2 separate regions of the Homo sapiens genome follow, and region 1 is linked to region 2. Evidence: fine-mapped expression QTL. A gene starts in region 2. The other region holds a variant in brackets. All regions are shown on one strand. Distances are between the middles of the regions.

What was found. PIP is the estimated chance that this variant, and not a neighbour inherited with it, causes the effect. A credible set is the group of variants that fine-mapping cannot tell apart.
Region 1: its variant is the best candidate, but not a certain one, in a credible set for the expression of SIPA1L3 in skeletal muscle (GTEx, PIP 0.57).

The regions. Positions count from the first base shown.
Region 1 is chr19:38,177,768-38,182,160 of GRCh38, reverse strand. All of the region lies in intron 15 of SIPA1L3 (signal induced proliferation associated 1 like 3), which reads right to left. Among named protein-coding and RNA genes, the nearest start is that of SNORD152, 17 kb to the right of the region's middle. The variant G/A (reference allele first, on the strand shown) is at 2,047.
Region 2 is chr19:37,904,710-37,909,102 of GRCh38, reverse strand. SIPA1L3 (signal induced proliferation associated 1 like 3) reads right to left here and starts at 1,895. Exons shown (of 22, transcript NM_015073.3): 1 at 1,745-1,895. WDR87 (WD repeat domain 87) reads left to right here and starts at 2,509. Exons shown (of 6, transcript NM_001291088.2): 1 at 2,509-2,604. RefSeq lists an enhancer at 1,184-1,243 and a silencer at 1,544-1,783.

The sequences.
Region 1 (4,393 bases), 270 kb before region 2:
CCTAACCTTTCTTTTTTTTTTTTTGAGACAGGGTCTCAGTCACCCAGGCTGGAATGCAGTGGCGCGATCTCAGCTCACTGCAGGCTCGACCTCCCAGCCTCAAGTGATCATCCCACCTCAGCCTCCGAGTAGCTGGGACTACAGGCATGCACCACTATGCTTAGCTAATTTTTGTAGAGATGGGGTTTCACTATGTTCCCAGGCTGGTCTTGAGCTCCTGGGCTCAAGCAATCCGCCTGCCTTGGCCTCCCAAAGTGTTGGGATTACAGGATGAGCCACTGGGCCTGGCCCTTAACCTTTTTTTTTTTTTTTTTTGAGACAGAGTCTCACTCTGTTGCCCAGGCTGGAGTGCAGTGGTGCAATCTCAGCTCACTCCATCCTCAGTCTCTCGGGTTCAAGCGATTCTCCTGCTTCAACCTCCCCAGTAGCTGGGATTACAGATGTGTGCCACCACGCCCAGCTAAGTTTTTTGTATTTTTAGTAGAGACAGCGTTTCACCATGTTGGCCAGGCTGGTCTCAAACTCCTAACCTCAGATGATCCGCCTACCTCAGCCTCCCAAAGTGTTGGGATTACAGGTGTGAGCCACCGCACCCGGTCAACCTTTTTCTATGCAAAAACATACGCATGTGTATATAAAAGGGGGCATTTTGTGGGGGATGGGTGGGAGGATTATTGGTTTTTTGTTTATTTAAAGAGACAAGGTCTCGCTATGTTGCCCAGGCTGGCCTCGAACTCCTGGGCTCAGGCGATCCTCCCACCTCAGCTTCCTAAGTACCTGGGAACACGGCATGTGCCAGCACACCCAGCTAGGATTATATATATAAGTTAATAAATCCCTTTTGAGGGTCAATTTAGCAGTATCACAGGATGGTACTTTGACTACAGTCAAATGAGAAGACTGGCACATCTCCCCAGAGATGACAACATTGACCACAAATGACCATTTCAGTACTCCGAAAATTGACCAAACACATACAACAATTTGAGAAGCATGTATGCTTGAGAAACTGAACTTTAGGGAAGAACAGAGGAAATTTGTCGCATTTTGTCCTCCCCCCACCTCTTCCCAGCTCAGTGAGTGAAGAAGTTCTTCCAGAGCAGAACCTTTGGGACGGTATCAAGGGTACCAACATATGTGCATCAGGAACTTTGGAAGGAGAGGAGAGAAGGGGCAGAAAAAATATTTGAAGAAATAATGGTTGGAAACTTCTTAAATCTGATGAAAACCTTACACATCCAAGAAGCTCAACAAACACCAAGTAGGAAAAATACAAAGAGATTCACACCTAGAAAAGGAGTTGAAAGTTAAATGCTGGCCGGGCGCGGTGGCTCACGCCTGTAATTCCAGCACTTTGGGAGGCCAAGGCGGGCAGATAACCTGAGCTCAGAAGTTCGAGACCAGCCTGACCAACATGGAGAAACTACATCTCTACTAAAATACAAAAAAATTAGCCAGGTGTGGTGGCGCATCCATATAATCCCAGTTACTTGGGAGGCTGAAGCAGGAGAATCGCTTGAACCCGGGAGGCGGAGGTCGCGGTGAGCCGAGATCACGCCATTATGCCGTTGCACTCCAACCTGGGCAAAAAGAGTGAAATTGTCTCAAAAAAAAAAAAAAAAAGAAAAGAAAAAAAGAAAAATGCTAAGATAAACATCTTGAAAGCATCAAGAAAAAGATGATGCATCGCATATAGAGGAGCATCAATACAATTAGCAGGCCTATAATCCCAGCACTTTGGGAGGCCAAGACGGGAAGATCACTCAAGCCCAGGAGTTGGAAACCAGCCTGGGAAACACAGTGAGACCCCACTTCTATAAAAAAGAAAAAAAAACACAATTAATTGCTGACTTCTCATTTAAAAGAATGAAATAAAATGTAACTTTTAAAGTGCTGAAAGAAAACAACTGTTAACCAGGAATTCTATACCCAGCAAAACCATCCTTGAAAAATGAAGGCAACAGAAAGATGTTCCTATATAAACAGAGATGGAGAGAATTTGTTGCTAGCACACCTGCCTGATACAAAATAATTTTAAAACTCCTC[G/A]GGTTAATCCCAGCACTTTGAGAAGCCAAGGCAGGTGGATCGCCTGTCAGGAGAGCTCGCAGCCTGGCCAATATGGTGAAACCCCATCTCTACTAAAAATACAAAAATTAACTGAGTGGTGGCGGGCACCTGTAATCTCAGCTACTCAGGAGGCTGAGGCAGGAGAACTGCTTAAACCCAGGAGGCAGAGGTTGCAGTGAGCTGAGATTGCGCCACTGCACTCTAGCCTGGGTGACAGAGTGAGACTCCATCTAAAAAAAAAGAAAAAAAAAGTCCTCAGGCTGAAAGAAATGACTCTAGACAATGACCTGAGTCAGTAGACAGAAATGAATAGCCCAAGATGGCAAACTGTGGTTTAAAATAAGATTCTATAAAAGTATATGCTTTCTTATTTCTTCTCTTAACTTCCTTAAAGACATAAGACTGTATAAGGCAATAATGACAATACTATACTGCTGGGTTAAAACACATATGGATGTTTATGATAAACAGAGCACAAAAAAGGGAGAAGGAAATAGGACAATATTGGAGAAAAGTTTTATATTTTATTGGAATTTAGTATTAACCTGAATTGCAGTGATAGACGCACATTATAATAACTAAAAAGATAGTTACACAAGAGTAGAATCCAAATGTTATACTAAATTATATATATTTTTTATTTTTAACTTTTGAGACAGAGTCTTACTCTGTCACTTAGGCTGGAGGGCAGTGGTGCAACCTTGGCCCACTGCAACCTCCGCCTCCCTGGCTCAAGCGATTCTCCTGCCTCAGCCTCCTGAGTAGCTGGGATTACGGGTGCATGCCACCACGCCCAGCTAATTTTTGTATTTTTAGTAGAGACAGGGTTTTGCCATGCTGGCCAGGCTGGTCTCGAACTCCTGACTTCAGGTGATCTGCCCGCCTGGGCCTCCCAAAGTGCTGGGATTTTACAGGTGTAAGCCACCACATCCGGCCTGAAACTGTATTTATTTACTACAGTATAAGGCAGTAAGGAAGAACAGAGGAGCAAGAAAGATAGTAGACATACAGAAACAATAGCAAAATGGCTAATGCAAATCCAACCATTAGCAGTAATAATTACATTTAACGTGAATGGTCTGAACACTCCCATCAAAAGGCAGGGATTGTCCGACTGGATTGAAACAGCAACTATGTAATGCTTTCCACAATTTAGCAACATCTATCAATGGAGCAAAGAGTAGGCATTGGTGAGGAGATGTCCAGGGAACTACTGAAGCATGTAACACCAAGAATGGTCAGGAATGCTTTCCCCAGGAGACAAGAGCATCAGAACTGAGAACTGAAGGATGACTGGCTTCAGCTTAACATTTGGCCTGGCTGGGTGTGGTAGCTCATGCCTGTAATCCCGGCACTTTGGGAGGCCAAGACGGGCAGATCATGAGGTCAGGAGATCGAGACCATCCTGGCTAACACAGTGAAACCCTGTCTCTACTAAAAATACAAAAAAATTAGCTGGGCATGGTGGTGGGCGCCTGTAGTCCCAGCTACTCGGGAGGCTGAAGCAGGAGAATGGCATGAATCTGGGAGGCGGAGGTTGCAGTGAGCCGAGATCGCACCATTGCACTCCAGCCTGGGCGACAGAGTGAGACTCCATCTCAAAAACAAAAACAAGACATTTGGCCTCCCAGAAATCCATGCAATAGAAAAGCCTGCACAAGGCCGGGCATGGTGGCTCATGCTGTAATCCCAGCACTCTGGGAGGCTTAGGTGGGAGAACTGCTGGAGCCCAGGAGTTGCTGTAGAGACTCTATCTAGGGACGGGGTCTTGCTATGTTGCCCAGGCTGGTCTTGAACTCCGGGGCTCAAATGATCCTCCCACCCCAGCCTCCCAAAGTGCTAGGATTACAGTTGTGAGGCACCATGCCCAGCCCTAGAGACCCTGCCTCCACAAAAAAATAAAAATAGCCAGGAATAATAGCACATGCCCATAGTCCCATAGTCTTAGCTACAAAACACACACACACACACACACACACACACACACACACACACACACACACACACCAAAAGCCTGCACAAGCACACACAGGCAGGTATGAGGACGGTCTCTGTAGTACTGTTTATAATCAGGAAAAGTTGGAAATGGCCAGGCTGGAGTGCAGTGGTGTGATCTCGGCTCGCTGCAACCTCTGCGCCTCCGGGGTTCAAGCGATTCTTGTGCCTCAGCCTCCTGAGTAGCTGGGATTATAGGCATTCACCACCATGCCTGGATAATTTTTGTATTTTTAGTAGAGACGGGGTTTCACCATGTTGGCTAGGCTGGTCTTGAACTTCTGGCCTCAAGTGATCCACCTGCCTCGACCTCCCAAGGTGCTGGGATCAC
Region 2 (4,393 bases):
AGAAGAGCAACTCCCAGGTTTCTGGCTTAGGCAACCAGGTCAATGCTGGCACATTTGCCAAGATGGTGACTACTGGTTCCAGGAGGAGAAGGAGTTCAGGTTGGACATGCTGAGTTTATGGTGCCCAAGAAACAGCCACTTCTTTGAGCCACAGCATCAAAGAAGCACAGGCTCCACATCTGGAGCTGGAGTGCAGGGGACTCAGTGGCTTTGGGACACAAAGGCAAAAGCTGGCAGCACCAGGACAATAATTAAAGCACTGGAGTGAACATACTGGCTCTGTGGGGAGGGGTGTGTGAGCAGGGGACTGCTGATGGCAGGTCAGACCCATTTCTTCTTAGGCCTTTCTACTATAGTGTGTTCCATAATTTAATCTTTGGTAAGTAAAATTTGGGAGGGAGGGGGAAGATAAAAAAACACTAACTTTGTGCTCACTCTGCCATGTAGGTACAAACAGAAGCAAAAAGGGCCTATTAAAAAAAAAAACAGCAAGATACATTTAATCATTTAATAAGCACTTACTGTGTGCCGGGCCTTGTGCAAAGCACTAAACATGAATTATCTCCTGGAACCATCCAAACAATCCTGGCACAAAAGTCCTATGACTACCATTCCACAGATGGGACACTGAGGATGGGAGCAAATGTGTGGGGGAGCTCAGGGCTGTCATGTCACAGCCCACAGTCAGGCAGTCTCTGGGCCAGATGGAGAATATTGAAGAACAATTATAATACATAAGAGCTGCTACTTAGTGAGAGATGGCGCTGGACTAGAAATACAATCTCAGCAAATCCTTACAACCCTTTGAGAGTGATCTTGTTATTATCCCATTTTGTAAATGAGGAACCTGAGGTAGTAGGAAGGGAAGTCAACTGGACCAGTTCTGAATCTGGCCCTCGGGGGTGACCAATACTACGGCCAGAGCCCCACCCTCAGAGGGTCTCTGGGCCACTAGGAAAACGCTGAATAAATGGTACCATTTACTGAGCGTTATATGCCAGCTGCTGTGCTAAGCACTTTACACATGGTATTCTCACTGCATCCTGAAAACAACTCGACGAAGTGGTTGCTATTTAAATCCCCATTTTATAGATAGGGAAACCAAGGCACAGAGAGGTGAAGCCAGTTGCCCAAAGTCACACAGCTGGTAAATGTTCAAATTTGAACCTGGGGTCTCTCTGCCTTCCAAACCAACGCTCTTAACAAAATAATCTCGGTTAACAGCAGCTAGCCTGCATTGGGTGCTAACTAAGGACTCACCTCTTTACATGCACACGCTCAACTAATCCTCACCCTATGCAATCGATAACATCTTCACCTCATTTTTCGGAGAGCTAACAATAACCCAAATACGTAGTAAGTGCCTCCTATGTGCCAAATGTTTTATTATATTATCTCAACAGAGTCTCCGCCAAGATGCTCTCCTACTCCGTTTTACTGCAGGGGAAATTGAGGTTCGGCGCGGTTTTCCCAGATCGCGGCTCCCGAGTGGCACAGCCGGGACGCGAATCCACCGCTCCCCGCCTCCAAGCTCTTCACCACAGCGCCGGGGTGCACGCCTGGAAAGTTGAGCCATGCGGGCACGAGTCCGGCTGGGTCCGGAGGGCGCGAGTCCCGGCGCCGCCGCCCCCCACGGCCAGTACCCACACCCGGCCGTCCGCCCGCGCTGACCCTCGGGGTCCGGGCAGCCACCGATTCCCCGCCACCCTTGCGCGAGGCCGATCCTGCACCCGGAGCCACGTACCTGGACGCCCCGGCTGCCCGCCTCGCGGGCCCCACGATCGCGGCGTCCAGCTCCGCGCCGCTCGCTGGAGACGCCGCCAGCTCCGGTGGCCCGAGTGACTTCCAGGCTGCCCACTTCCAAGCCGCTTCGCGCGAGTCCTCCTGGGAACTGTAGTTTCGCCCTAGCCGGCCGCGAACTCAAAAAGAGAATGGCGCGCGGGGGCTGCCGGGAGCCGTAGGCGCACCGCCGCGCTGCCTCCTAGGAACGGTAGTCCGCTGGTCGCCTTCGTGCAGCTCCAGTCTGTAGAGCACTTCCGCAGCCCCGAGGGGCGTGAGGGAGGGAGGTGTGTCTCCTGCAGACTACAGCTCGAGAGCCGCGCTCTTCGCCCCGCCGGGGCGGTTTCTCCTTTCTCCTGGCCCCGTCTACCTCCTCCCTTCATTCGGCGGAACCTCTCCCTCACTCTCTGCCAGGCTCGAGTCACTTACCCCTAGGACGCTAGCCCGGGGGAAACGGGGGAAGCGGAGCAGTGCGCTAGACCCCCAGCGGAGGGGGCGGTGGAGGAGGGCGTAGATGCACGCCCGCGCACGCGCGGTCGTCGGCAGACCCCGGCCTAAATTGCCGCGGGACCCCGCGGAGAGGATTTTTTTTTTTTTTCTTTCGAGAGCGCGCGCGCGTTCTCGCGCCGGGCGCGCGCCCATGCGCACGCGCGTTCAGACCCCTGGCCTCGGGAAGTCCGCCGGCTGCGGGGTTGGGGGCCAACCGTTCTGTGGGCGGAGTCCTCTCGCAACATCCGCCAGGTAGCTTCTTAGTTGCTGCCCCTAGCTCTAGGAGCTCCTGAGTGCACACGCCGTACCCGTCCCTTGTCGGGAATCCTGTCGCAGGTAACAGGCGCAGCCAATGCTTTGAGATAGAGACGCCCTGCCTTCCCTGCCACGTGCAGGAGGCCCGAGGGTGAGGGGCCCCAGGTGTAGTCGCCTGTCCCCGGCGTAGGCGGCTCCAGAGCTCTGCCTTCGACGGGAGCCACAAGACCCAGGGGCTGCCTAGGGGCCTTGTTATCTTGCATTCTTTTGTTGATCGCACATTCCTGAGGGTAACTAGTGTTTGTAGAGTACCTACACCTTGGGAAATTTTGTCCAAATTTAATCCACCTGGTGACATAACCAAGCAGCGGAATACCCCGCAACACACACTCCTTTTTTAAGGTATATTGCCACTCCTCCATAAGAGTTACCGAGGGAATTGACTGGAATTGCAAGGTCCTCTGGTGGAGAAGCCGGAGTCAATACCCTTTCCGCCTCAGCCTGCCTTCTAGGAAGATGTTCACTAACACTTGAAGCTGGGAAGCATATGTTTCTTCCTGGGAGAGCACATTTTTCCACTCATTCAACAAAAATGGATTAACCACCTATTCCATGTCAGGTTGGGTGATTATGGAGACACAAGAGAAATCCAGACAGACTGGACTCCTACCTTCAGGGAGTTTTCAGTCCAGTAGGGATATCAGGCCACCACCAGACTACAACAATGTAGAGCAATACTAGCTAAGAGAAATATACCCTGCACTTTGAGCCACCGAGGCAGGAGGATCACTTAAGGCCAGGAGTTGGAGACTGGCCGGGTAACATAGCAAGACCCTATCTCTACTAAAACTAAAAAACTAGCTAGGCGTGGTGGCATGTGGCCATAGTCCCAGCTATTTAAGAGGCTGAGTATCGCTTAAGCCCAGGAGTTTGAGACTGCAGTGAACCATGATTGCACCACTGCCCTCCAGCTTGGGCGACAAAGCAGAACCCTGTCTCTTTAAAAAAAAAAAAAATTATATATGTGTGTGTTTTTATGTGTAATGCAAGCCACATATGCAATTTTAATTTTGACATAAACAGGTAAAATTCATTTTATTTATCATTATTATTTACTTTTTTTTTTCTTGCTATGTTGCCCAGGCTGGTATTGAACTCCTGGCCTCAAGACATGTTCCTACCTCAGCCTCGCAAAGTGCTGGGATTATAGGCGTGAGCCATCTCACCCAGCTATGAAATTAATTTTAATATTTTATTTAACCCAAATATATCCAAAATATTATTCCAAGTTAGGTTAATGGAAAAATGTTTTCATTGCTTCAGTTCTACTTTTTTTTTTTTTTTTTTTGGAGACGGAGTCCCACTCTGTCGCCAGGCTGGAGTGCAGTGGCGCCACCTCGGCTCCCTGCAACCTCTGACTCCCTGGTTCAAGTGACTCTCCTGCCTCAGCCTCCCAAGTAGCTGGGATTACAGGCAGGCGCCATCACACCCAGCTAATTTTTGTATTTTTAGTAGAGACTGGGTTTCACCATGTTAGCCAGGATGGTCTCGATCTCCTGACGTGATCTGCCAGCCTCGGCCTCCCAAAATGCTGGGATTACAGGCGTGAGCCACCATGCCTGGCCTCAGTTCTACAATTTAAGTTAATTAAAATCAAATAAAATTAAAATGTTATGAGGCACTAACAAAGATACTCATTTGCGGCATTAGCTGCAGTAGCAAAAGGTTGGAAACTACCGAATGTCCATTAATAGAAATTTGAATAAATAAATGATAGTTCAGCCACACGGTGGAATACCCTGCAGCTAGTAACTGTTGGGAAATGAGTTATATGTATTAATATGAATTAGTCTTAAAGGTATATTAAGAG